Linked DNA regions of Homo sapiens: all the other regions are linked to region 4. The links come from fine-mapping of genetic effects on gene expression. A gene starts in region 4. Each other region holds a variant in brackets. All regions are shown on one strand. Distances are between the middles of the regions.

Region 1 (5,101 bases), 130 kb after region 4:
GGACCCTTGACCTCAAGGGGCTCACAGTCTAGTTAGGGAGGCAAAGCCCCACAGTGCAGGGAGGTAGTGGTGGGTGCCCAAGAAAGTGCTGTGGGCACTCTCAGGGCAAGAAGAGGTTAGCTAGTGGAACCAGTTCAGGCTGCCCCTGGGAGGTAGACCTTGAAGAACATGTTAGTGTTGAACATGCCAAGATGCACAGAGAAGATTTCTTGGCAGAGAAGACCACACTTGCCAAGGTATGGAAGCAGGAGCTTGCACCCCTTCCTACATGGGTACTGAGGAACCATTGGCAGTTCCTGAGCTTGGGGAGAGACCCAAGTTGGATCTGGCTTTAGAGTGAATAAGAGGTAAAGGGAAGGGGTCTTGGAGATAGGAGGACCCTTTTGGAGGCAACTACACAACCAGATCAGGTAGTGATGGCCTCGGCAGCAGATACAGATGGGACCTGTGGGGCGGTTTTCCTTTAAGTTGGGCCAAGGGTTTTTGCAAGCTGCAATCTCACGCTCACGTTGCCCTGCAGGGTGAGAGAGAGGGCCGGGAATGTAGTTGCACCCCAAGGCCTCACTGACCCAAGAAGATTTTTGTGGAGGGGCTGCCCAGTGCCAGTAGGGGCAAGGAGGGCCACATGTACTCACTATCATGCCAGCCCTTGTCCATCAACCTACCCCATTTAACCCTCCCAGGAGCCTTATGAGGCAGGTCCTAGTGTCACCGCCATTTTGCAGATGAGGGAAACGAGGCACAAAGAGGTAGAATGGCTTGCCCTATTGCACAGCTAGGGTATAAGAGGCCAGGATTTGAACATCTCCCTGACACCAAAGCCAGCCTCTTAGCTATGTGTGAGGTTGCCTTGCAAAGGCTTTATTCAGTAGCCAAAGGTCCGAACCCTCCCAAAGGAAAGGATCAAGAGGGTCTCCCTGACCTCGTTGCCCTTCCTCACTCCCTGGCCAGGCTGCTATTTCAAGGTGAACTAAGGGACCCCAGAACTGATGAACAATCGGTTCAATGAACTGATTTATCAAGCACTTAGTCTGTGCCAAGCATATAGGTTGTATTTATCAGATGTATCTAGGCCAGGTGTGTATGTGATGTATTTATCCTGGCTCAGGAACCTGCAGTGGCTCCCCAGTGCCCTGGTCCAGTGGTCTTAACCTCATTTTATAGATGAGAACTTTGATGCTTAGAGCAGATGTGTTGCTGGCTCATAGCGGCATTTGAACGCGGGGCTGCTGATTTCTGGGCCTGTATTATTTCTAAGACACCTCACTGCCTTCTGCACTAGCAGGAAGGGGTGAACCCCATGGCTTCAGAACTGGAACAGGAAAGTGGACCAACATGGAGCCCGCCCCAGCCACAGCCCTAGGGAAGCGTCCAAGCTGGCTCTTTGTGTATAAATCATGGTCTGTTTACTGAACAGGGAGTGTGTCTTTCCTCCTGGGGAGCTGCCCCAGGGTGGCTGCAGGTGCAAATAGGGTTGAATTCAGGATAGGGCCTTCTCTCCTGCCCAGCCTGACCGCTGAGTAGCCTCTGGACTGGAATGAAAGGCTTTCCAGTAAGTGCCTTGCTGGACTGCAGCTCAGCCATGTGCCAGGTGGGAATGGGGGTGGGAGACCAACCAAGAGAAGGATTCAGGAGCCTGAGAGCAGGGGCAGGAACTTGCCAACAAATCTCTTAGCAAGCTGCTTTCTCAGCTGGCCTCATAGAGCGTCCCCAGGGACGTCACGGGGCAGAGCTGGTCACGAGGAGTCCTGGCTGCCCTCCCAGCCTGATCTAGAGGAAGAAGGGCGCATGGGGTGAAAACACCAGGGAGCTCAAGGCAGGATTCAGAAATCAGACACTGCGGCTGCCTCTCCCCTGGCCTTGAAGGACATACGGCCTGGGCCTCTCTTGATCCGTAACTGATCAGAGTGGGTGGGGTGGGGTGAGCAATCAGATCTGCAACTGTTTTCACAGAGAATTGAGCGGCCCTGCAATGCCTGATGCGTGGAAAACACATTCCACTTGGCCTGGGGCTGGGCCAGTCCCCCCTTGGTCTAATCTTGAGTGTGTCCCATCCCCTCTCTGAGGTCTTCATCTATGACAATGAAGGGGTAGGGGCAGCAGGATCCCCCAGATTCTTCCAGGCCCTTCAAACGTCTGGTTTGAGGTCCTGTGATAGAACAGGAAGGGGCCTGAGCTACAGCCAGGAGCATGGACACCAGGCCTGTACCCTGTGTGCTGGGCACGATCTGCTTTGCTCAGTCTGCCTGGGCTCCTCAGTGCCTCCCTGCTTGAGCACCTCGAGAGGGTGAATACGGGCCAGGAACTCTGTTCAGCCCTGCCACCTACAGGGGAAGCAGCTGGGATGAACCGGCAAAGGATCAAGTCTGTTTGGCTTTGGGATGTGTTTTCCTACCACTTCTTAAGCATGGGAGGGGCTGACATTCTGGAAATTCACTTCAGCCCAAA[C/T]AGGGAAGCCATCCCAGGACGCAGTGCTGGGTCCTTCCAGCCTTCTCCTCCCTCCTTGGCGAACTCCCTTCTGGTAATAGATTCTCCGACCTCCAGCCCATCCCAGGACACAGGGCTGGGTGCCTCCAGCCCTCTGCTCCCTCCTTGGCGGGCCCTCCCTTCTGGTAATAGATTCTTTGACCTCCAGCCTCATCTTCCTCCTAACTTCTCCCTCCCTCTCACCCTCACTTCCATTCTTTTTCCAGGCTGTATCCTTTTTCAGACCTTGCCCAGCCTAGAGAGGTGGTTAAGTGTGTGAATTTCAGAAGGATTCTCTGCCTTCAGTCAACACAAGTGAGCAGTTAGGAAGCACTCATTAAGGAGATTAGAGGCTAACTCTGAATTCAGGAGGTGCCGCAAAGCCCACGCTGCAGACTCAAGTGGGCTCAACAGGCTCCAGAGTTTCCACTGCGGAAGGTGGAGCCTGTGACTCTCAATGTTTTCAGCCTCTGCAGGGAGGACACTGAAGGAACAATTACTCCTCTTAGGGTTACACTCTGGTCCCTAAAGGAAACTACTGCTGCCTGCAATGACTCCATAGTTGTAAGGAGTTGATGGGAGGCGCCACCTCTTTCAGGAAGCCTTTCAGATAGTAGCAGGCATGTCCCTTTCTCCCTCCCCTCCACCTTCACAGTTTTCTGCACTGAGTGCAAAAGGCTCTGGTTGTGCCAGAGGGTGTCTTCCTCATTACTCTTCTGTCTGGTTCATGGGATGGAAAACTATCATTTTGCACTTATCTCAGCCTTTACTCCCAGGACAGGTGCCTGATGCCCAGTGGTAGGGGCCAGGCCTCGTAGCTGGTTCGTGCACTAGAATGAGAATGGCCGCAAATTTTTACTTTGTGTATTTGTTTGGTTTCTTTGCCCAAATTTTCTTTCCTTTTTTTTTTTTAATGGAAATAAGTTTCTGGTTATAAGAAAGTAACCCATGAGCTGAAGAAATCAAAAGGCACCTGTAATCCCGGCACTCAGAGGTAGTCAGTGGGTCATACCAGACTTAGTTCTGTACACTTACACTTTGATGTACAATAAGAATTATACTGTGTTTTTTTCTTATTTGCAATTTACTTAAAAAGAAAGAAAGAAAGAAAGAAAAAGATCCCGTGGATGTCTCCCCAGGTAAATAGGCACAGGTCGACCTCACCTGCGTGGATGACTGCATGGTATCCTATTTTATATTTGAGCCATAGTTCACCCTCTATTAGCTACAACTAATCTTGAAGAGACAGAGGATTGGCACGGTTGATTTTTGGGCCAGGTGCAGTGGCTCACGCCTGTAATTCCAGCACTTTGGGAGACCAAAGCAGGCAGATCACTTGAGGCCAGGCATTCGAGACCAGCCTTGGCCAACATGGTGAAACCCACTCTCTACTAAAAATACAAAAATTAGCTGAGTGTGGTAGCATGCATCTGTAATCCCAGCTACTTGGGAGGCTGAGGCACGAGAATCGCTTGAACCCAGGAGATGAAGGTCTCAGTGAGCTGAGATAGCACCATTATACTCCAGTCTGAGCGACAGAACAAGATTCTGTCTCCAAAAAAAAAAGATTTTTGTATGCCAGGCTGGATGAGGTGGCTCACGGCTCACGCCTGTAATCCAGCACTTTGGGAGGCCGAAGTGGGTGGATCACTTGAGGCCAGGAGTTCAAGACCAGCCTGGCCAACATGGTGAAACCCCATCTCTACTAAAAATACAAAAATTATCTGGGCGTGGTGGTGGACACCTGTGGTCCCAGCTACTTGGGAGGCTGAGGTGGGAGAATCGCTTGAACCTGGGAGGCAGAGGTTGGAGTGAGCCGAGATCGCACCATTGCACTCCAGACTGGGTGACAGAGTAAGACCCTGTCTCAAAAACAAACAAACAAAGATTTTTATATGCCAAAGCAGAGAAAAGTGGGTGGCTGATTGGCACTGATAGTTGACCCGCTGACCAACAGAAGAGTGGACCGAGTCTGGGAAGTGGCTCAGCCTGGGCCCTCGGTCTCTCTGGCCGCTGTTTGCTGCCTTGAGGAGGAAGCAGCCCATGGCGGGGACTCTGGGTCTCGGCGTCACCTTCGATGGTGGCACTGGAGTCCCCCGGATGGTGCCTGAGGCCAGCCTTTGCCACCAAGCCTGCGCTGGCATTGGAGGGGCCCTGAGAACGGTGGCTTGTCCAGTTGGGGAAAAGAGAAAGATGGCCCTGGGTCACACCCTCAATGCTCTGTGCCTGCAGGAGGCCTCAGCGGGGCAACAGTCATTGACTCCCTCGATACCCTCTACCTCATGGAGCTGAAGGAGGAGTTCCAGGAGGCCAAGGCCTGGGTGGGAGAGAGCTTCCACCTGAACGTGGTGAGTCAGAGGCCCTCGGCGGGGGAGGGGGGCGGGGGCCAGAAGAGGCCCAACAGCCAGCTTCACCCTGTCATCTCTGAGACCCAGAGATGTTGAGGGTCTCTCCCACGGCTGCACAGCCCAGCAGTCTCGGAACCGGAGCTGCCGTGCAGTCTGTGCTGAGTCCCTTCCTTAAGACAGCCTTGAGGTGGGGACATCCTCCCCAGTCTAGCATCTTCCCTGGGGAGGGGACACAGCCACGACCATCCATCCCCTCCCTGCAAGGTCAGTCATTGCTCATCTGGGGC
Region 2 (5,101 bases), 150 kb after region 4:
CAACATGGCGAAACCCCATCTCTACTAAAAATACAAAAATTAGCCAGGTGTGGTGGTGCATGCCTGTAGTCTTAACTACTGAGGAGGCTGAGACGGGAGAACCACTTGAACCCGGGAGGTGGAGGTTGCCGTGAGCTGAGATTGCGCTACCGCACTCCAGCCTGGGTGATGGATTGAGACTGTCTCAAAAAAAAAGGTCAGGAGTTTGAGACCAGCTTGGCTGACATGGTGAAACCCTGTCTCTACTAAAAATACAAAAATTAGCCAGGAGTGGTGGCACAGGCCTGTAATCTCAGCTACTCAGGAGGCTGAGGCACGAACATTGCTTGAACCTGGGAGGCAGAGGTTGCAGTGAGCCAAGATCGTGCCACTGCACTCCAGCCTGAGTGACAGAGTGAGACTGTCTCAAAAAAAAAAAAAAAAAAAAAACCCTCCCCAAAAGAATCCCTCAAAGTACCCCTAAAGCAGCAAGCAATGAGGAAGTGTTGAGAGTTGGGTGGGATAGGAGTCGGCCAGGCAGTGGTTCTGGGGTTGAGACTGTCCAGGTGCCAGGCAGAGCAGTCAGTGGAGAGGCTATGGATCAGGCCCTGTCACACCCTTCACGTGGCACCAGGGCAAGGCCACGTCACCATCCCCGGGTTGGAGCCTGCAGTCCGTTGGGCAGCTCTCCCTTCCTGCCTCCTCATAAGGTTTCCTCCATGCATCTGAACCAGCTGCCTCCCATCCTCAGCAGGCTGGGTGCAGTCGGCTTCTTCGGAAGCATGAAGGCTCACCTGGTGTCCGTCTCTCGGCAGGTCAGGAACATCCGCAAGGTCCTCAGGAAGATCGAAAAGCCCTTTGGCCTCTACCCCAACTTCCTCAGCCCAGTGAGTGGGAACTGGGTGCAACGTGAGTACAGAGACGCCACTGCCCCTTATTCAGCGGGTTCCTGCCCAGGCTTCCTAGGAAGACCCTGCCAGGCCCCTGGGCTGAGTGAGGATGTGTCTGTCAGAGCCATGCAGCCAGCAAGGCATTCGCTCGGTGCTCCTGGACACCACCTGCCTTCCCATGCATCCTGGGGGCTTGCCTGTGGTTGTCTGCTGCTGCAGTGCCGGATGTGATGGCTGCTGTTTACTGAAGGCCTGCCCTGTGCGTTCCAAACCCTACCTTCTCTGGCCCCATCAATGGCGCAGCCTTCCATCTCTTATGCTGCTGCGGGAGCCTCCTGCATTATACCCCAGGTTCTCGGGAGGGTCCCAGGTGGAGTCATCCATTCTAGAAGTGGCTCCAAGAGAGGCCAGGCATCCTTTCCAAGCCTCTTTGATCAGGCTCCCCACTTCCAACTTCAATTTTTTTTTGTTTTTTTGTTTTTGAGACAGAGTCTCACTCTGTCACCCAGGCCGGAGTGCAGTGGCACGATCTCGGCTCACTGCAACCTCTGCCTCCCAGGTTCAAGTGATTCTCCTGACTCAGCCACCCGAGTAGCTGGGACTACAAGCATGTGCCACCATGTCTGGCTACTTTTTTTGTATTTTTAGTAGAGATGGGGTTTAGTAGAGATGTTGGCCAAGCTGGTCTCGAACTCCTGACCTCAAATGATCCAACCGCCTCGGCCTCCCAAAGTGCTGGGATTACAGGCGTGAGCCACCACGCCTGGCTCCAACTTTAATTTAAAAAACAAACAAACAAACAAACAAACAAAAACCATACAACAGTGTAGAAATCATGAATTCAGGCCAAGCACCTGACGGGAGGCCGAGGCAGGCGGATCACGAGGTCAGGAGTTCTAGACCAGCCTGGCCAACATGGCGAAACCCTGTCTCTACTAAAAATACAAAAAGTAGCTGGGTGTGGTGGCACGTGTCTCTAGTCCCAGCTACTCAGGAGGCTGAGGCAGGAGAATCGCTTGAACCCGGGAGGCGGAGGTTGCAGTGAGCCAAGACCGCACCACTGCACTTCAACCTGGGCGACAGAGCAAGACTCCGTCCCAAAAAAAAACAAAAGACGTCATGAATTCATCTATACATCTTAGACCTACAAGAATCAGTCCCAGAGTTTTCAGAAGGTCTCTGTTCAGAGACTTGTTTCTCAGCCAGATAACAGCCAGTCACCCATGGAACATCATTCACAAGCCCCCAGCCCTACCCATTGCAACAGAATGGGGTTTGGGGTCGCTTAGGTGTGAGAGTGTGGACAAGTCCCCCAGGCCTCTGGAATGTGCATGCCTGTTGAGAAGCCCAGCTCTGGGAAGCAGAGGCAGGCCCTGGTCACATGGTCATGGTCAGCTGGAACTGGCAGTGACAGGTTCCGTGGGCACTGCCTCTAGGGCCTCCCAAGACCTGGCAGAGCCCCCACCCCCACTGTCTGTGTGCAAACAAGGACCCCCTTCCCTTTCCCCTGCCTCCAACCCAGTTTTTGTGACATCAGCAAGGGCTCAGGGGCAAAGTGGGTATGAGTCTAATGACTGTGTGGCTTAGGGGGGAATTCACTGTATCTCTTTGAACCTTGGTTTCCTGTCCTGCAAAATGAAAGAAGAGAATGAGATGCATTCTTTGTGTGCCATGGAGGGGCGTAGGAAGAATGGTCAAAGGCTGCAGGAAACAGATTTCACTTCCATCTGCCAAAGATGGTCCAAGTTGTCCCAAAAGGGAACAATGCAAGTGGGGCCTAGAGAGGCAGCATTGGGGACACTGTGGCGAAGCAGCTGAGGCCTTTCCTTCCAACCTGAACCTCCCCCAGAAAACTCAACCCAGGAATTTCCCCCAGGGACGACCTCACCCCAAGTGGCCTCCCGTAAAAACCACTTAGAGAAATGCAGAGTATTTTTAACCAAAACACACTGCCGAATCCAAAAGTACGGGGAGAAAATGAAGCTTGAATTGCAGATTATAGCCACGGGAAGAGGCAGTTCGATAACAGTTGCTGGTTTTAATTGCGAGACCTGACTGGATAAGGAGATAAACCCCTCTGAGCTGCTCCAGGGCAAGGCAGCAGAACCCATGAAAAGGGCTGAAAGGGGTGTGGGCTTCCTAGCTCAACAGTTACCTTGGCAAATTATAAGGGAG[C/T]CCCTGCCGGGAAGCATAATTTTCTTCTCAGGCAGAGTCAGGGCCTGCAGGTCTGGGCAAAGTCAGTCGCATATGGGAAATTGTTTCCTATTAATAAAATCTGAGCCCTCGGCCTGCTAAAGAGCAGAGGGGGTTATAATGCCCAGCTCGCCCAAACGTCTGCCTTCCTCCTCCCCTGGCCTTGGTGCCCGGGGTCATCTCAGGTTTCCTGTGGTTTTTTGTTGGTTTTTTTTTTGGTGCATACGTATTCTTTTAGCACTTGATAGCATTACCACCTTGCATAAGCTTAAGTGCACGCACATCATTTTCTCTTCTTGAATCTTCAGAACAAGCCTGAAGGCAGGACAGGCAGGTTCTGCGTAGCCCATTTGCAACCACAGAAATTGCAGCCTAGAGAAACGAAGGAGGAGTTAGGACTGCATCTCAGTTACCTAGGCCTCTGCTCTTGTTGGCTTCCCACTCCTCCTGGAAACCGAGCTTCAGGGGTAACAGGGGAGCCCCAAGACCCGTCCTATTGCTAAGAGTTCACATCCAGGATAAATCCACCAGGCTCCCGATGGTGCCCAACACAAATGAGACCACCCTGAGGCCAACCCCCTGAGAGCTGCCGAGGAGGGGTCACCAGCCCCTCGGTGCGGCACCTGAGTAACTTGTCCACTGCCTGAATCCCACACTTTCTTCTGTGGGAGGGAAGTGGCAAGTCCAGACCTCCTTGGTAGGTACAGGAGTGTGAGCTGCAGCCTGGCAGCTTCCCTGGCATCAGATCGGCTGATTTCCAGGCTTGTGGCCCAGCCTCCTGCTGCCAGGTGTGACGAGCGCATTGGCACGGTCAGGAAGCAGCAGAGCCTGCCTCTGCTCTGGGGCTCACGGACACCAGCTCGTGCCCCCTTCACACATCTGCAGATGGGGAGACCAAGGCCCAGAGTGGGCAGGGGTGCACCCTGAGCTAATGCAGAACAATGTCTTCTCATTCCTATGCCTGTGCTTCTCCCAGCCCGCCTCGCAGTGTTGGGGAAGACCACACTCGTACACACACACACACACCCCTACCACCCCACCCACCCTCCCAGACACACACACATTACACACTCCCCCATACACACACACCCACACTCCCCTCACATCCACACTCCCCTCACACACACACATTACACACTACATACACTCCTACTCTCCCCTCACACACCCACACTCCCCTCACACACTCCCCCCACACACAGACCCACACACCACTACCCTCACATACGTCCACACTCCACACACACACACACACACCCCTACCACCCCACCCACCCTCCCAGACACACACACATTACACACTCCACCATACACACAGACCCACACACCCACACTCCCCTCACATACATCCACACTTCCCTCACACACACATTACATACTACATACACTCCTACACACACTCCCCTCACACACACTCCCCTCACACACACCCACACACACAGACCCACATACCACACTACCCTCACATACATCCACACTCCCCTCACACACACACATTACACACTCCCCCCACACACAGACCCACACAGCCACACTCTCCTTACATACATCCACACTCCCCTCACACATACATTACACACTCCCCTCACACACACAGACCCACACACCCACACTCCCCTCACATAATCCACACTCCCCTAACACACACGCATTACACACTCCCCTCACGTACATCCACACTCCCCTCACACACACTACACACACATTACATACACTCCCCCCACACACTCCCCTCACATACATTCACACTCCCCTCATACACACACATTACACACTCCCCCACACAGACCCACACACCCACACTCCCCTCACATACATCCACACTCCCCTCACACACACCACACACACATTACATACACTCCCCCACACACACAGACCCACACACCCACACTCCCCTCACATACATCCACACTCCCCTCACACACACACACACTCCCCCCCACACACAGACCCACACACCCCTCACATACATCCACGCTCCCTTAACACACACACACTACATACACTCCCCCTACATACACTCCCCTCACACACCCACA
Region 3 (5,101 bases), 61 kb after region 4:
GTGAGAATATACAATATTTAGTTTTCCAATCCTGAGTTACTTCACTTAGAATAAGAGCCTTCAGCTCCTTCTAAGTTGCTGCAAAGGACATTATTTCATTCCTTTCTATGGCTGAGTAGTATTCCATGGTGTATATATGCCACATTTTCTTTATCCACTCATTGGTCGATGGGCACTTGGGTTGGTTTCGTATCTTTGCAATTGCAAATTGTGCTGCTATAAATGTGTATGCAAGTGTCTTTTTCATATAATGACTTATTTTGCGGGGGGGGGGGGAGGTGGTTACCCAGTGTGGGATTGCTGGATCAAATGATAGTTCTACTTTTAGTTCTTTAAGGAATCTCCATACTGTTTTCCATAGTGGTTGTACTAACTTATATTCCCACCAGCAGTGTAAAAGTGTTCACTTTTCACCACATCCATGCCATGGCTGCTTTTTATTGAGCACATATTATATACGAGCCATTGTGCTCAACACTTTACATCTGTTATTTACTCTTAGGGTTATTCTAAGGATTAAGTATTTCTGTCCTTTTACAGATGAGGAAACTGAGACTTACAGGGGTTAAGTCACTCACTCAAGGCCACACAGCCAGTAAGGTGGCAGAGCCCTAGAGCAGCCTCTCAAGCTTCAATGTGCGTTTGAATCACCTGGGGCTCTTGTTAAACTGCTGCTACAGATTCAGCAGGTGGGAGAGTGGAACTGAGGTACTCTGTTTCTGACGTGCCCCCTGGGTGGCCCTACTCCTGGTCCCTGGAGCACTTTGAGCAGCGAGAGTTTCTCTGCCTGTATGGCCCACACTCTCGACCCTGATGCCTTAGAAACAGCTGCAGACAGGATGCGATTCCTGAGACTGCTCAAACCTGAAACCCCATGGGCAGGATGTGGGTGAGCTGTCTGGACCTCAGGTGGGTGGGAGTTGTATCATATGCTCATTTCCCACATTGGCCTTTCAATAGCTTGAGTAAACCCGAAACTGAGAGGGTTGGAGGCAGCATCTCCCCTTCTACTCCCCCGCTTCACCTCCCCGGGCAACCAAACCCCACCCGTGCCCAGCTTCTGAGCGATAGACCTGGGCTGTGTATTTGCAGGAGCCTCACTGGGGTCACCAACCAGGTCATGTTGTGTTGCCCCAATAAATGGAACTGGATCAGAAAATCCAACGTGGATAGTTTTTAGGTGCCAAGCTGTCAGCTCTTCCCTTGGACTGTGCTGAAAGTGGAAGAGGAGAAAAAAATCAACCCAATGTTCTAAGCTCTCTGTCTACATAGTCATTAGATCCCAGGATCGTTAGAGACCAAATCCCTTCCCACTTGGCCCCTGCAAATGGGGCCAGGTGTCACTGCTGGGAGACGCCAGTAAGGCTGCACGTCATGGTGTGAGCACTTGTCTTTAATGACTGGGAAAATCCATTTCCTTCCTTGGCAGCTTTGAATGTAGCAACTGTGGTTCTGGGTCACTGCCAGAGCCAGCCTTGTGTGTATGTGTGTGATTTTTTAAAGTGGGGGAGAATGTCTCAATATTCAATGCTCACCCCCTTCCTTCCAAGTTGTACCCCCAGAGAACTGTCCAACACAAACTTTGGAGTTTTCCACTCTGGGAGTGGTCTGCTGGCACCCACGTGTCCTCCCCTCCTCTAATGCATCCTTTCTCTCTTGATCTCATTGTTCTGGGGTCCTCAGCTGAGTGGGCATCTGTGCCTGGGTGATCGATTCTAGTCTCTTTTCTGCAGGAGAGAACTCTTGAGCTCTGAGACAGGTAGAAAGAAAATCTTAAACCAAATAATAATGTTCTGCCTCACACTAGTAAATATTTTGCACTAAAAAATTCCGTGTCATTTTGATTTGTTCAGGTAGACAAGAACATCTTTTGTTTGAGGAAGAACTGAAGAGATTTCTTGGGATTCAGCTCCGATGGCTCTGCCTGTATCTCTCTATCATTGG[A/G]GCTTTGTTTTCCACCTTTGCAAGACTTGAGTGAAGGGAAGGCTTTGTGGTCTATTGTTAGGTGCTCTTTGAATCTATAAATCACAGGCTACAGGAAGGGAGGGGCTTCCAGAGACCATCTAGAGCCACCCTCTATCTCTAGCAGGGACACACACACACACACACACGTACACACACACAATGACTGCCTGTTGCGCGTTTCTAGAACCTAGTGGGGACAGGGGTACAGTTTCTTTTGGTGCATAGTTCTCATGTTGATTGGTTCCGACTGTCATGTTCTTGCACCTGTCCTGAGTATCTCTTGCTGTAGCTCTGGCCCTTTCCCCAGTCAGCTACTGCACTGCCCTGGCCCATGTTTCTTAGAGACATGGTTATCTCTGTGCTATTAGTGTCTGTGTCCTGGCCGAGGCAAGTCCCTTCCCTTTCTGAGTCTATATTCTTATAAAATGTGGCTTTGAGAATAGATGATGTTTCTGGTCTTAAAATTCTCTTTGACTCTGGAGTTCTGGATCTGTGCTTCTGTTTGATGTTGTTTCTCTTGCTGGGTGACCTTCTCTCTGACTCCCTGCTGTAAAGACCTCCTTTTTTTTTTTTTTTTTTTTTTTTTTTAATCAAAACCTAACTTGGTCCGACCTACCCCATGGCTGACCACCCAGGCACTTGCTTTTGACTTAAGGGTAGCACCATACGATGTCTTCTTTTTGTTTTTCATTTTAACAACCTGTATTTTTCACATCACAAAACCTTTCTAGATATTCACTGTAGAAAATTCAGAAAATATAGGTCAATAAGAAGAAAAAGATAGAAATCACTAAACTTCTATCAGACATAACCGCTGTTAAGAATTTGGTATATTTTCTTTCAGTCTTTTTTGTAAACACTCATACATAGGCCAGTGAATTTCATACTATGTAATTTTGTGTTCTGCCTTTCCACCTAATAATATATACTGAGCATTTTTGCCTATCATGAAACATTTGTAAACACAATTTTTAATACCTATTTACTACTTTACATCTCCTACTTTAGCCCTTGCATAATTATTTCCAAATGGAACAAATATCTGTCTTGTCCAGCCCACTGAACTGGCCAAATCAAATGAGATAAAATATGCAAAGAGCTGCACAAATATAAGTGATGATTGTTCATTTTGTTAGTTTTATCTCCCCAAGTGAACTACTTTACCGTATTGTCTCAAAATCGTTAAACAGTTTCCTGTTCACCAAGTTTTGCACAGTGGTGGGCAAAACATGCTGTCTGGCTGTAATCTCTTAAAAGGGCGTTACATATTAATAACTTTAAAAGTTTTTTCTTAGCAACTTCTTAGAAACTCTGGTCTAAGGAAATTATTCAAAATGTTATGTGCACAGAGATGTTCACTATGGCATTATTTACAATAGCCCCAAACTAGAAATCACCAAAATGTCTAATTATATGGGAAGGAGGTGAAGTAAATGATGATGAACCCACTTTCTAAGCTATTATATAGCTATTAAAAGTGATGTTTACAAAGCCTTTGTAATAAAATTGGAATATGTCATAATTATGGGAAGAAACAAAGGTACAATATGAGAGGGAAAAACAAAGGTACCTGCAGAGAAAGACGCCAAAATGGGAATGGTGGTTGTTAAATAATGGGCAGTTGTTTTCCTTCTCTTTTTCTGCTTTTCTTCAGCGAGCTTGTGTGCCTTTGATACATTAAAAGGTAGAGAGACAGAGACAAGAAGAGAGAGAGAGGAGACGAGAGAGAGAGAGAGAAACAAGACGAGAGAGAGAGATGAGACAAGAGAGAGAGAGGTGAACCTTGTTTTTAAAATTACCTGAAAGGATTTATGCAGAAGAGAGAAGGAAGGGGCACAGAGCTGAGTTCAAGAGAAGGGAGTGACCCAGAAGTGGGAGAAGCGGGCATGAGGGCTGAAGCCTGAATTGAGCTGAGACTTGTAGAAAATTCTCAGAACCACCAAAGGAGCCTTTTAATTTTTTTGGAGTAGGAAGAAAACAGGCACCTCCTTTGAGCATGCTAATATAATTATAAAAGGAGAAACCAAAATAGCTAGTTCCTAATTTGTTCACCAGACTTCTTCCTTCTCTGACCAGCGTGGGGAACAGGCTTGGTGAGACGGACATGAAGACCCATCCAGGCCATTGAGGAACTGGGGGCTAAGAAGAACTTCAGGGAGACTGACAATGGCCACATTCTGTTGTAATTTATAAAAAGTGAAGGAAAATAGAATTGTGTAATGTATAAATTTGGGTGAAAATAACAGCCTCCAGTAAAATTTCCTAAATGAGTTAAAAAAAAAAAAAAAGGCATTTCAGACTTACGGAAAAGTTACAAAAATCTAGCAAGGATCTTACGTTTACCTTCACCCAGATTCCGCAAACGTTAACATTAATTTTACCCTGTTTGCTTTCTCTCTCTGTTTTTCACTCATTTGCTTTACATATATATCATATATATGCACACTGTATGTATAATATATGTATACACATGTACATACATATTGTCTTGTGAACCAATTTGAAAGTTGCAAATATAATGTCCTCTACCCTTAAATACTTCATTGTATATTTCCAAAAAGAATGACATTTTTCTTTTTCTTTTTTTTCTTTTTTTGAGATAGAGCCTACCTCTGGGTAGAGGCCTAGGTGACACAGCAAGACCTCTGTCTCAAAAAAAAAAAAAATATATATATATATATATATATATATATACACACACACACACACATATATATATTTCACATACCATAAAATTCATATACCATAATATCTGACTTTTAAAGTATAAATTTTAGTCATTTTATTTCATTTTTGAGACGGAGTCTTGCTCTGTGGCTCAGGCTGGAGTGCAGTGGCGCAATCTCGGCTCACTACAACCTCTGCCTCCCGGGTTCAAGAAATTCTCCTGCCTCAGCCTCCTAAGTACCTGGGATTACAGGCACCTGCCACCACACCTGGCTAATTTTTGTATGTTTAGTAGAGACAAGATTTCACCATGTTGGCCAGGCTGGTTTTGAACTCCTGGCCTCAGATGATCCGCCCACCTGGGCCTCCCAAAGTGCTGGGATTACACGTGTGAGCCACCATGCCCAGCCTCAGTCATTTTAATATATTCACAAATTGTGAATAATCACCACAATCAATTGTAGAAAAA
Region 4 (5,101 bases):
AGGAATGGCAAATCCATGCTCTGTGCTTGAGCTGGAACATCCATCTTCTCCTGCCCTTGGACATCAGCTCTCCTGGTTCTCGGGTCTTCAGACTCAGACTGGGATTTACACTATCGGCTCTTGTGGTTCTCAGGCCTCCTGGCTTGGACTGGAACTACACCACCAGCTTTTTAGACCTCCAGATTGCAGATGGCAGATTGTGGAACTTCTCAGCCTTCCATAATCACAGAAGTCAATCCCTCATAATAAATCTCTTTTTATATATCTATATATAGCCTATTGGTTCTGTTCTGGAGAACTCTGATTAATATAGATACTTATAACTCATCCCAAGTCTCTCTAAGCCTTGGTATTCTTATCTGTAAAATGGGGCTATTAATAATTATCTACCACAAAGATTATTCTGAAAAGTAAATAAGACAATATGTATTTGGCACATAGAAAATGTTAGTTCACTGTTCTTCCATTCCCCGAGCTTCAGTTTCTACATCTGTGAAATGGGCATCTACTCACTCATTTCTTCATTCATTTACTGAGCAAACACAGTGCCCATGTGGAAGGCATTGTGGTTAAGACCCGGGGCAGTTAGAGAAGTTAGAGAGTTAGAGAAGTGAGGAAGCCGTGGTGAAGAACTGAGCATCTGCTTTGTGACAACACACCAATAGTCTTTAAAAGTCAGTGGGAGAAGAGCCACGGGATGTATGAGGTCTCTGGGGGCTAGAGGTGTGGGGCAAGGGGACACCCAGGGTTTCAGAGAGCTTTTTAGAGAGACTGGTATCTCCCTAGCAAGTGATGGTATCAACAACTTGGTGTGATCACCAACATCACATCACTTTGCAATGGAGTTACCTGCTGGGGCCTCTGGTTTTCATAGCCTGAGTGTGAAAGGCACGTCAGTCCTGCTGCAGCCCCACTTTCCACCCTGGCTCACAGAGCACACCAGAGTTTGGTCAGAGTGTCACATCACAGTGAGCATCTAGTTCAAACAGACATTTCCTTCTGAGATTCAGCTCTGCTCTTCTCCCTTTCTGGATCCTACCTTCACAGGGGACTGAACAGTGATTCCCCTACACTCTCAATGAGGAACAACACAGATGATGACTCTAATGAATGCTGGGTCCCTGCCTGGTTCTCCAAAGACAAGGTTGCCCTTTCCTGCAGTGGGACCCAGTGAGGCGATGCTTGGGTGTTGGAGACATGGGTGAGGCCAGGCCAGGTCTCTGGGCTCCTGCACCCAAATGGGTCACATGCTTATCTCTGATTTGCACAGCTGGCTCCACATCAACCTGCCAACGAAACTCACAAGAGATTGAAATATCTGAATTAGAATTTTATATTTAAGCTGCATATATTTGTGGGATTGGGAAGGATTAGTCATCTCCAGTGACCAAAATGTTTGCACCTGTTACCCACTTTCATTTTCAGTTGAGAGAAAGTTGCATGCCAGGGATATTTAAACATCGAGGGTGGGTCTGCTGTCAGTGGTCTGGCCAGAGGTAGAAGGATGACTGAGTCCCAGCCGCCCATCCCCAGCAGGCCTCAGGGAAGAAGCAAGATTTACGAGGCGAGAGCCTGCCTGGCCCGCTTCTTCTGTCGGGAAAGGCTTCCCTGCAGTATTTTCTGTCTCGTCAACACTGCATTTCATTTTAAATTGCAGCTGAAAGTAGATATTTTCCCTCTTGCCTATTACAAACCTCTTAATTTGTCTCTCCCTCTGCTGTTATTTGTCTCTATAAAGTGTTTTGCATGAAAGACCCACACAGCACAATGTTGCTTCACCCTGGGTTAGGTTTAACAGGAAGGGAAGATGCAGAGACTAAGTCCAAGGAGGAAGATGTGAGGGCCTTGGGGTTGAGGACACGCGTGTCTGGGAGTTGATGCCTGGCTGTTTTTGGAGGTTATCTGTTGCCTGAGTGTCTGTGGGTATGCGGGTGCACATGTCCATGTTTGTACTAATTTACATATATGTCTATGCATACTGTGGTATAATCACTTGGGTGTCCATACCCAAATTAAGTGTATGTTTGAGTGCATGTACACACCCACATGCCAGTCTCTGTGTGCATATAGATCTATGCCCAGACGCACACATGTGCATATAAACACACGTAGGCATCAAGGTAGACGTCCGTCACATTATGTGTGTGGTCTTCTGTAGACACGCCCGGGGCTCTCTTCCTTTCGCTGCTTCTCAAGGCTGCGGTCAGCCTCCCTCCGTGCTCCACCCAGGAGCCCTGGCCCCGTTTAGGGTTGTGGGAAAAGGAAGGCACGCCAGTGGTCTGCGAGGGGGCCAGTGGAAACATCACCTCCGCCGACCCGGCCGCGGTCACAGCTCTCTGGCTTGGCTCCAGCCACCAGCAGCACCCCTGCAGCCCGGCGTTAGCGCTGAGAAGCCCGGGGCAGCCGCCAGGGCGCGGGCTGCCAGCTCCCTGACAACCCCGGGCTGGCACTCGGGGGCGAGAGAGGTCACCCAGCGACGGGCACACCCCTCCAGAGCAACACCGTCTCCGGCCCGCTTCCGGGGGCCACCAACCCGAGCCTCGCGGGCGGGCTGGGGGGTGGTCTCTGTCGCTTGGGGTCCAGCGAAGGCTGGGCAGTAACCAATGGACGACTGTGGCCCAACGGGGATCCCTCGGATGCAGCCAATGCCCTCGTTGCGCTCTCCGCCCCCGCCCTCGCCTGCCCCGCGCCGCTGGACCATTGGCGCCCGCTGGATGGGGGGTGCGCGCGACGCCTGCCCTTCGGGGAGGGCGGGGCTTGGAGCGGGCTGCGCTCCCGCCCGCGCTCGGCCTCTGCCCCGCCCCCGGACGCGCGGCCCTCAGCCGGCTGCGGCGCGGCGGCGGCGGGAGGGGGCGCGGGGCGCGCGCGTGGGCGTGGCCGGCGGGCGTGGCCGGCGGGCGGCAGGAGGCGGGGCGGCGGGCGCTGTCGCAGTGAAAGCCCGAGCGGCGGCGGCGGCGGGGACGGCGGTGGAGGCGGCCGGGTGGCTGTGCGCGCGTGTGGGGCGCAGGCTCGGCGGCAGCGGCCGGTCTGGAGCGGCCGCTGCGAGGAAGACAGCTGCAGCGGGGGAGGCGCGGCCAGGGCTGCGCGCTCCGCGGAGCCGGCGGGGCCGGGAACAGGTGATCCCAGTGGGAGCCCCGCGCCCTGCCGAGTTCGAGGGGCGGGAGCCCGCGCTCCCGGGCGCATCTGCAGCCGCCCAGCCGCGGCTCCGGACCCAGGCATCCCTGCGCTGTCTGGGGCCCGGGGGAAGCCCCCTGCCCCCGCAGGCTCGGAAGTGCCTGCTCCTGCTCCCTGGCCACTCCGGCTCCCAGCTCCCGGCGCCCTCTCCGCGGCGGAGAAAGTTGTGGACGTGTCCCGATAGTCGAGCCCGGGCGCTGTCGCGACCGGGCCGGGTGTGCGCGCGCTCGGGGCGGCGCTGACACGCCAGCCCCCCATCGCCTCGGTCCCCTCCGGAAACTGCTTCTGAAGCTGAAACTTTGGGCGCCTACCAGCGCGGGCGGGAGCCTAGGGGGCGGAGGGCGGCTTGGTGCGGGCCTGCGGGCGCCCCTCGGCGCGGACAGCCGGGACGCCGCGGACGGCATGTGACGGTCCCGGCGGCCGCAGCGCGGGAAGGCGCGGGCCCCGGCGCGGCGGGGAGGGCTCGGCCGGAGGGGAGGCTGCGGCGCGCGGCCGGTCGCTGCGGGCCCGGGCCCCAAGCCGTGCCGCTCCGCTCGCCCGGGCCCCGCCGAGGCCGCTGCGCCCCCGCCTCCTCGCGGGAGGACTCGCTCCAAACTCCCTGAACTTCGGGGACAGTCCCCCGAAGCGGCGAAACTCTCAGGGTTGGCAACCCTGCCCAGGGACCCCCATCCCGGGCGGCGCTCCGGACGCCCTCCCCTCACCGCGCCCCCGCAGACACGTGCCTGGACTCCGAGGGCTTCTGGAGCCACCGGCCGGGCCACGATGCTCATGAGGAAAGTGCCCGGCTTCGTCCCGGCCTCCCCGTGGGGGCTGCGGCTGCCGCAGAAGTTCCTCTTCCTCCTCTTCCTCTCGGGCCTGGTCACCCTGTGCTTCGGGGCCCTCTTCCTGCTGCCCCACTCCTCTCGCCTCAAGCGCCTCTTCCTGGCCCCCCGGACCCAGCAGCCTGGTCTGGAAGTGGTGGCTGAAATCGCCGGCCATGCCCCGGCCCGCGAGCAGGAGCCGCCTCCCAACCCGGCCCCCGCCGCGCCGGCCCCGGGCGAGGATGACCCCAGCAGCTGGGCCAGTCCCCGCCGCAGGAAAGGGGGGCTGCGGCGCACCCGCCCCACTGGACCCCGCGAGGAGGCCACGGCGGCCCGGGGCAATAGCATCCCGGCCTCCAGGCCCGGGGACGAGGGCGTCCCTTTCCGCTTTGACTTCAACGCATTCCGGAGCCGTCTCCGCCACCCGGTCCTGGGAACGAGGGCCGATGAGAGTCAGGAGCCCCAGAGCCAAGTGCGAGCCCAGCGGGAGAAAATCAAGGAGGTATGGACTCAGCCCCCAAACTCCTCCCACCAACTGCCCCCTCTAAGGAGAGAAGACCCTCTGGCGCTCCCACCCCTTTCCCTTGCCTCAGTCACTCCTGGTCCCAGGTCTACTTCTGGCCCTGCAGACTGCACTTTGCACCTTCCCCTTTCCTCCCAAATGTCCCACCTTCTTTCCTCCCTACACAGTTTCCCACCACTCGGGTCAGTTAATCGTCCCCACCGTGACAGATGGCAGCTGAACCCCTAGACCAACTGCCCCCTCACTCCCAGACTCTGGTATGTCGTATCCAACCCCCAGGCCCAGTGAGCTCCACTCCTTCCCTTTGTGGAGTTGCTAATGAGAGTGGAGTTCAGGTTCCTTAGTGCACCCTCTTTTTGCATTTGTGGACACAGAGCCACTGGTCCCATTCTTTTTCACTGTGTGACCTTAAGTCCAAAACCCCTATAGGACCTGCTTACCTAAAAACCCAGGATTTAAGGGGGTATTTGGTGTCCTGCAAATATTTTGTAATCTAGTAAGCAACCTACAAACCAGAGGATGTTGTGCATTCTGTTTCTATTGAGCTTATTGAGCTTCAGAACAATTGTACACAATTGTACATAATTGCATATGATGCAGGAAG
Region 5 (5,101 bases), 110 kb after region 4:
GCCGTGCAGACACATGACAAGGCTTTGATAACACAGTCTACCTGCCATGTCTGAAAAATCAGGCGTGCGTCTTCCTGGCAGGGAATGCAGTTTCCTGTTAATGAGTTGTGAGAGGTTGGAACAAGTTATCAGAGAGAGGCTGGGAGGACTGCTTCCCGGGGCAGCTTCCAGGAGATGGAAGCCAGGCCCCAGCCTCCTCCCTTTGGGCGGCTCAGCTATTTGAGGAGCATCTCTCAAAGGGCTGAACTAAAGCCTGGAGTGAGAGTCCCCAGCCTAGGCCAGGACCTGCTGGTGGATCTTGAGCCCCTGCTGCGAGCTTCTCCGGGCCTTAGCTGCTGCACTCCCCTGCCTCAGCAGGGACTGGCCGGAGTCCCCTCCCCTCTGCAACCTCGGGTTCTCAGAGGGACCAAAGCCAGTAACCCCATGACAGACGGATCTCTGTGGTTCCTCGCTGCTTGCAAAGCACTCACACTTGTCATCGTATTAGGCACTCACAACAATCTGTTTGAGAGAAACAGGCTCAGGGAGGTGAAGTGCTCAAGGTCATTCTGCCTGGTGGGTCTGTTTAGGGTAATGCTGGCTGCTGTGACAGATAAACCCAGAGACTTCAGTGCTTGGAGACAACAGACATTTCTTTCTTGCTCATGTAAAGTCATATTGATGGTGGGGAGAGCTCTGTTCCCTCTGATGACTCAGGCACTCAGGGTGATGGAGGCGCCATCATCTTCAGGTTGTAACACCCAAGATTGCCTCGGCCTTGGAATATCCATGAATGGTTTTTATGGGCCAGGCCTCAAAGTGGTGTATGGAGCCTATGCCCACACCCCATTGGGTCCTGCGGCTCCACCTAGATGCAGAAAGGCTGGGAAACGCAGTGCCTGCCTGGGCGGCTATTTCCCTTCAACGGCTCTGTCTAAGGAAGGGGAACTGGTGCAGAATCGTTGCTGGCACAGTAGAGGATATTACCCTCAAATAAAGGCTGGGGACCCCTAGTGAGAGTTTGGTCACCTAGGCGTCAACAAGTGCCCAGTGTGGTCTGAGACCTGGAAGAAGACTCGCTGTGTGGCTCTGACCCCAGAAGGATTCTGGATCTCCAAATGCTGTTCCAGCCTTCTCGGCAGCCTCTTGCCCCTTCGTTAGCTTCTAATGTACATGGTTTGCTCATGGCCCAGCCCTGAGACACCCCTCTGTGGCTCCTCATGGCCCTCAACATAGAGACCAAACCCCTTGGCCTGCATTTGAAGTCTTTCCCAGGATGGCTCCAGCTGACTGGCCACATTGCTCCCCTTATTCCCTCCCCCGAAACCTATGCTCCTCCCTGACCAGCTTCCTACCTCAGGGCCTTTGCACATGCTGTGCTCTCTGCCTGGAATGTCCCCCCTGTTGCTCTCCACCCTGCGGGTTCCTGCTCATCCTTCCCGATCCATCACAGGTCCATGAGGCTTCCTGAGCAGAGTTAGCCACTCGGCCAGCATTTATTGAGAGCTTACTGTGTACCAGGCACTGCAATAAAAGCTTCCCAGGAATTAACTCATTGAGCTCCCAAGCCTACAAGGCAGGCGTCCCATTTTCTTTTTCTTCTTTTTTTTTTTTTTGAGATGGTGTCTCGCTCTGTTGCCCAGGCTGGAGTGCAATGATGTGATCTAGTTCTGTCACCCAGGCTGGAGTGCAATGGCATGATCTCGGCTCACTGCAACCTCTGCCTCCAGGGTTCAAGCAATTCTCCTGCCTCAGCCTCCCGAGTAGCTGGGACTACAGGCGCCCACCACCACGCCCAGCTAATTTTTATATTTTTAATAGAGACAGGGTGTCACCATGTTGGCCAGGATAGTCTCCATCTCTTGACCTCATGATCTGCCCACCTCGGTCTCCCAAAGTGTTGGGATTACAGGCATGAGCCCCCGTGCCTGGCCAGGCATCCCATTTTCTAGATGAGGAACCCAGGTCTGTGAGGAGTGTGTGTGAGGTCACACAGCTGCAGAGTGGCAAAGTCAAATTCCAAACCCAGGTCCCCGTGGCTCACAGCCAGGCCTTAACAGCTGCATAAACTTCCACCTATTCTTAGCACCTGTCACAAGGCTTCATAATCATTCATTTACTTGCTGTTTTGCTGGGAAATTGCTTACTGTCTTTCTGAGAAAGCAGCTGCAGCCTCCGTAAGGACAGAGGTCAGGCCTGATGCATCCTAGAATCTTCCTCACCACTGTCCCCACCAGCACCAAGGCCAAGGTCTGGGTGGTGATTTCCTCTCAGATAAATCCCTTACCCTTTGAGAACCAGAAAGAGAAATTCCTCAGATTATGGTCTGTCATAATCCCCTCCCTGCTTCCCTGTCAGTTTTTGACAGTTACCCTGAAACCGTTTTAAAATGATCTCAGAGGCAGAGACTGGCCTTCTCCACGCATGATTAAGCACGATGGCTTTTTAATGATTTGAGCTGTGCCTTCTGTGAATTGACAAAAATGGATTACCATATATTTCTGAAAGCCACACTGCCAAAATCAGATTTTTTTTTTTTTTTAGTTTTCTCAGCCATCCTCGAAAACCTTAGCTGAGAATGACAAATACTAGGGGCTTTAATTGTTCAGTCACATGAGGGTGGTGCCTCCTGAGTTCTGAGAACTGCTCTCGCCAGGAAAGCCTTGAAATGCTCCTGGGCTTCGATCTTTAGGAAATTGAACTGTGTGTTTTCTCTGAAGCGGAGAGCTGTCTCCTGGGCCGTGGCACGTTTGCTGCATTTGTGAATTGTTTGGGCACTGAGGTCTGAAACAGAGGCAGTTCTTGCCCCAGAAGCATGCTCAGGGCTGTCACGACTGGATGAGGCCTGGCTTGGCTGTGGGTGGGTGGACAGGGCAAGCGGGGAGGGGGTTCTCCCTGTGTGGGCACTTCCTCCTCCTTTTCACTCTCCTGCCAGACTCTGTTCATGGAGTCCTGCACCCTTCACCTGATTCAGGCCACCCACATCTGCGACAGGGTTATTGCTAGTACCTTGGACAGATGCAGACTCGCTGCTGGCTCAGAGAGGTTAAGTCATTTGGCTGTGGTCACAGGCTGGTAAGCCACAGAGCCAAGGCAC[A/G]TGGTTTGACCACAAGCCTGTGCTTCCCCCACAATCGCTGCTGCTTTAAAAAAATCAAATGAGGCCAGGCCTGGTGGCTCATGCCTGTAATCCCAGCACTTTGGGAGGTCGAGGTGGACAGACCGCCTGAGCCCAGGAGTTTGAGACCAGCCTGGGCAACATGGCGAAACCCCGTCTGTACAAAAAAATTAGCCAGGCGTGGTGGCATGCTCATGTAGTCCAGCTACTCAGGAGGCTGAGGTGGGAGGATCACGTGAGCCCAGGGAAGTCAAGGCTGCAGTGAGCTGTGATCGTGCCACTGCACTGCAGCTTGGACAACAGAGTGAGACCCTGACTCAAAAAATAACAATAATCATCATCATCGTCATCATCATCATCATCATCATCATCATCATCATCAAATGAGAGGCAACTCATAGGTATCCTCTGTAGTCCATTTACATTTAAGGAAAACAAACCTCATTGTGTATCCACTAGCATCAGTGGCTTCAGTCGTCTACATTATCTGCATTTCACAGAGGAGGATGTTGAGGCTCATGAGATAAGGTAGCTGACCAGAAGTCACACAGCTAGTAATAGGACAATTATGATTTTATTCTAAGTCTACCTGATTCCAAAGTTTCTGCCCTACTCTGTCCTTTGTAGGAATCTGTCTCAGGCTCCTTCCTCCCTCTCTAACACAGGTAAGTCTGGCAAGGGGAAGCCTGAGTGGCTTCTGTGAGGTTCTGGAAGGGGCCTGTGGACCAAAGAAAAGGGAGGCCCTTGGTCTATAGGAGTGTGGGCTGGTCTCCTCTTTACTGATGCTGGGAGTAAACCAGATGGATTCGTCATGGCCTGATGGAGAGAAGGCCACCTGTCTGGCCTGTGGTCATGTGTGCTCTCGGCTCCTGCTCTGTTCTATGTCAGGGTTAATTTACTATATATTTACTCCAAACCTACCATGCACCTGGCATCACACTAGGCTCTTTGGTGGCTCCAAAGATGCATCTGGCAGGATCTCTTCCTTCCAGGGCTACCATCTGTCAGAGAAAAAGACCAACTCAGACCCTCCTATGAGTGAGCCTGGGCCAGGGGATCAGTGGTGGGGCCCAGAATGGTGTAGGTAAGAAGAGCCATCCCTCGAGGGCATCTGGGGGGGCTCCTGCAGAGGGTGCCCAGGCTCCTAGGGAGAGGCGGCAGCTCTCTGCAAGGTAGTGCCTGCTGCAGGGGGGCCTTGCTCCAGCCCAGAGGTGGGAGATAGGGTCAGGCTAAGCCACAGGCCTTCAGGAGGTAGCCTGTGGTCTCAAAGCCAAGAGTACTTCCCTGGGACCTTCTTGGACCCTCCAAACCAGGCCCAGTCTCCCAAGTTGTGCAGGAATGGAATGGCACAGCAGTGAAGGGCAGAGCAACCAGGGAAGATGGCCAGAGTTGAGTCCTGGCTCCCTGTTCATCAGCCCTGGGAGGTTTAGATGATTCTCTAAGCCTCAGTTTCCCCATCTGTAAAACAGGGGCAGGAATTGCACCCTCCTCCTCAGGTGTTGTGAGACTTAAAAGAGGTGCTGTCTGTGGTGCGCTCAGCAACATGGTGTCGGCCTTCACGCAGGTTTGCGTCTGCGGCGTCCGGCATTTTGCATGATCTCTAGCCCTCAGGATGGTTTGCAAGGTGGAGGTCTTGCTCCCACTGTGGAGGATGAGGAAACTGAGGCAGCTAGTAAGTGGTGGATCCAAGCGTGGGTTTCCAGGACTCAACCCATTCTGCTGGCCCACTGCCTGCAGCTAAGCTATCCCAGCAACTACAAAGACCCTCCCTGGGGCTCAGCTCCCTACCAGGCTCTCCTGGCACTGCCTCTGCTATCTCTTAATGTTTTACAGGGGTGAATGGGACCTCTTTGATTTCCTTTCTTTTCTCCTTTCCAATAATCATCATTAATCTTGTTATCAGAGCCATGCATCTGCACCTCTTGGCTGTGGTCCACAGGCCGTGTTTGCCATGATCAATGCATAGCTCTGTGTGGCCACAATGTATACCCAAGACAGCACTGCAAC

Alleles and levels. Alleles are on the strand shown, and positions count from the first base shown. SD is a standard deviation of normalised expression in the study named. Not every link is listed here.
As copies of T replace C in region 1, the expression in sigmoid colon of the gene that starts at base 2,930 in region 4 goes up (moderate effect, 0.59 SD a copy in GTEx).

What was found.
Region 1: its variant is fine-mapped to the expression of MAN1C1 in sigmoid colon (GTEx, PIP above 0.99). The same link has a PIP of 0.9 or more in esophagus muscle, gastroesophageal junction and tibial artery.
Region 2: its variant is fine-mapped to the expression of MAN1C1 in whole blood (INTERVAL, PIP 0.98).
Region 3: its variant is fine-mapped to the expression of MAN1C1 in whole blood (TOPMed, PIP above 0.99).
Region 5: its variant is fine-mapped to the expression of MAN1C1 in whole blood (TOPMed, PIP above 0.99).

Annotation. Positions count from the first base shown.
Region 1 is chr1:25,741,970-25,747,070 of GRCh38, forward strand. It overlaps MAN1C1 (mannosidase alpha class 1C member 1), which reads left to right. Exons shown (of 12, transcript NM_020379.4): 3 at 4,699-4,814. Among named protein-coding and RNA genes, the nearest start is that of SELENON, 56 kb to the right of the region's middle. The variant C/T (reference allele first, on the strand shown) is at 2,449.
Region 2 is chr1:25,763,080-25,768,180 of GRCh38, forward strand. It overlaps MAN1C1 (mannosidase alpha class 1C member 1), which reads left to right. Exons shown (of 12, transcript NM_020379.4): 7 at 795-888. Among named protein-coding and RNA genes, the nearest start is that of SELENON, 35 kb to the right of the region's middle. The variant C/T (reference allele first, on the strand shown) is at 3,045.
Region 3 is chr1:25,675,321-25,680,421 of GRCh38, forward strand. All of the region lies in intron 1 of MAN1C1 (mannosidase alpha class 1C member 1), which reads left to right. Among named protein-coding and RNA genes, the nearest start is that of MAN1C1, 61 kb to the left of the region's middle. RefSeq lists a silencer at 924-993 and an enhancer at 1,074-1,123. The variant A/G (reference allele first, on the strand shown) is at 1,945.
Region 4 is chr1:25,613,862-25,618,962 of GRCh38, forward strand. It overlaps MAN1C1 (mannosidase alpha class 1C member 1), which reads left to right and starts at 2,930. Exons shown (of 12, transcript NM_020379.4): 1 at 2,930-4,476. The coding sequence starts at 3,937. RefSeq lists an enhancer at 2,196-2,365 and silencers at 2,556-2,845, 2,866-3,155.
Region 5 is chr1:25,727,897-25,732,997 of GRCh38, forward strand. All of the region lies in intron 2 of MAN1C1 (mannosidase alpha class 1C member 1), which reads left to right. Among named protein-coding and RNA genes, the nearest start is that of SELENON, 70 kb to the right of the region's middle. The variant A/G (reference allele first, on the strand shown) is at 3,077.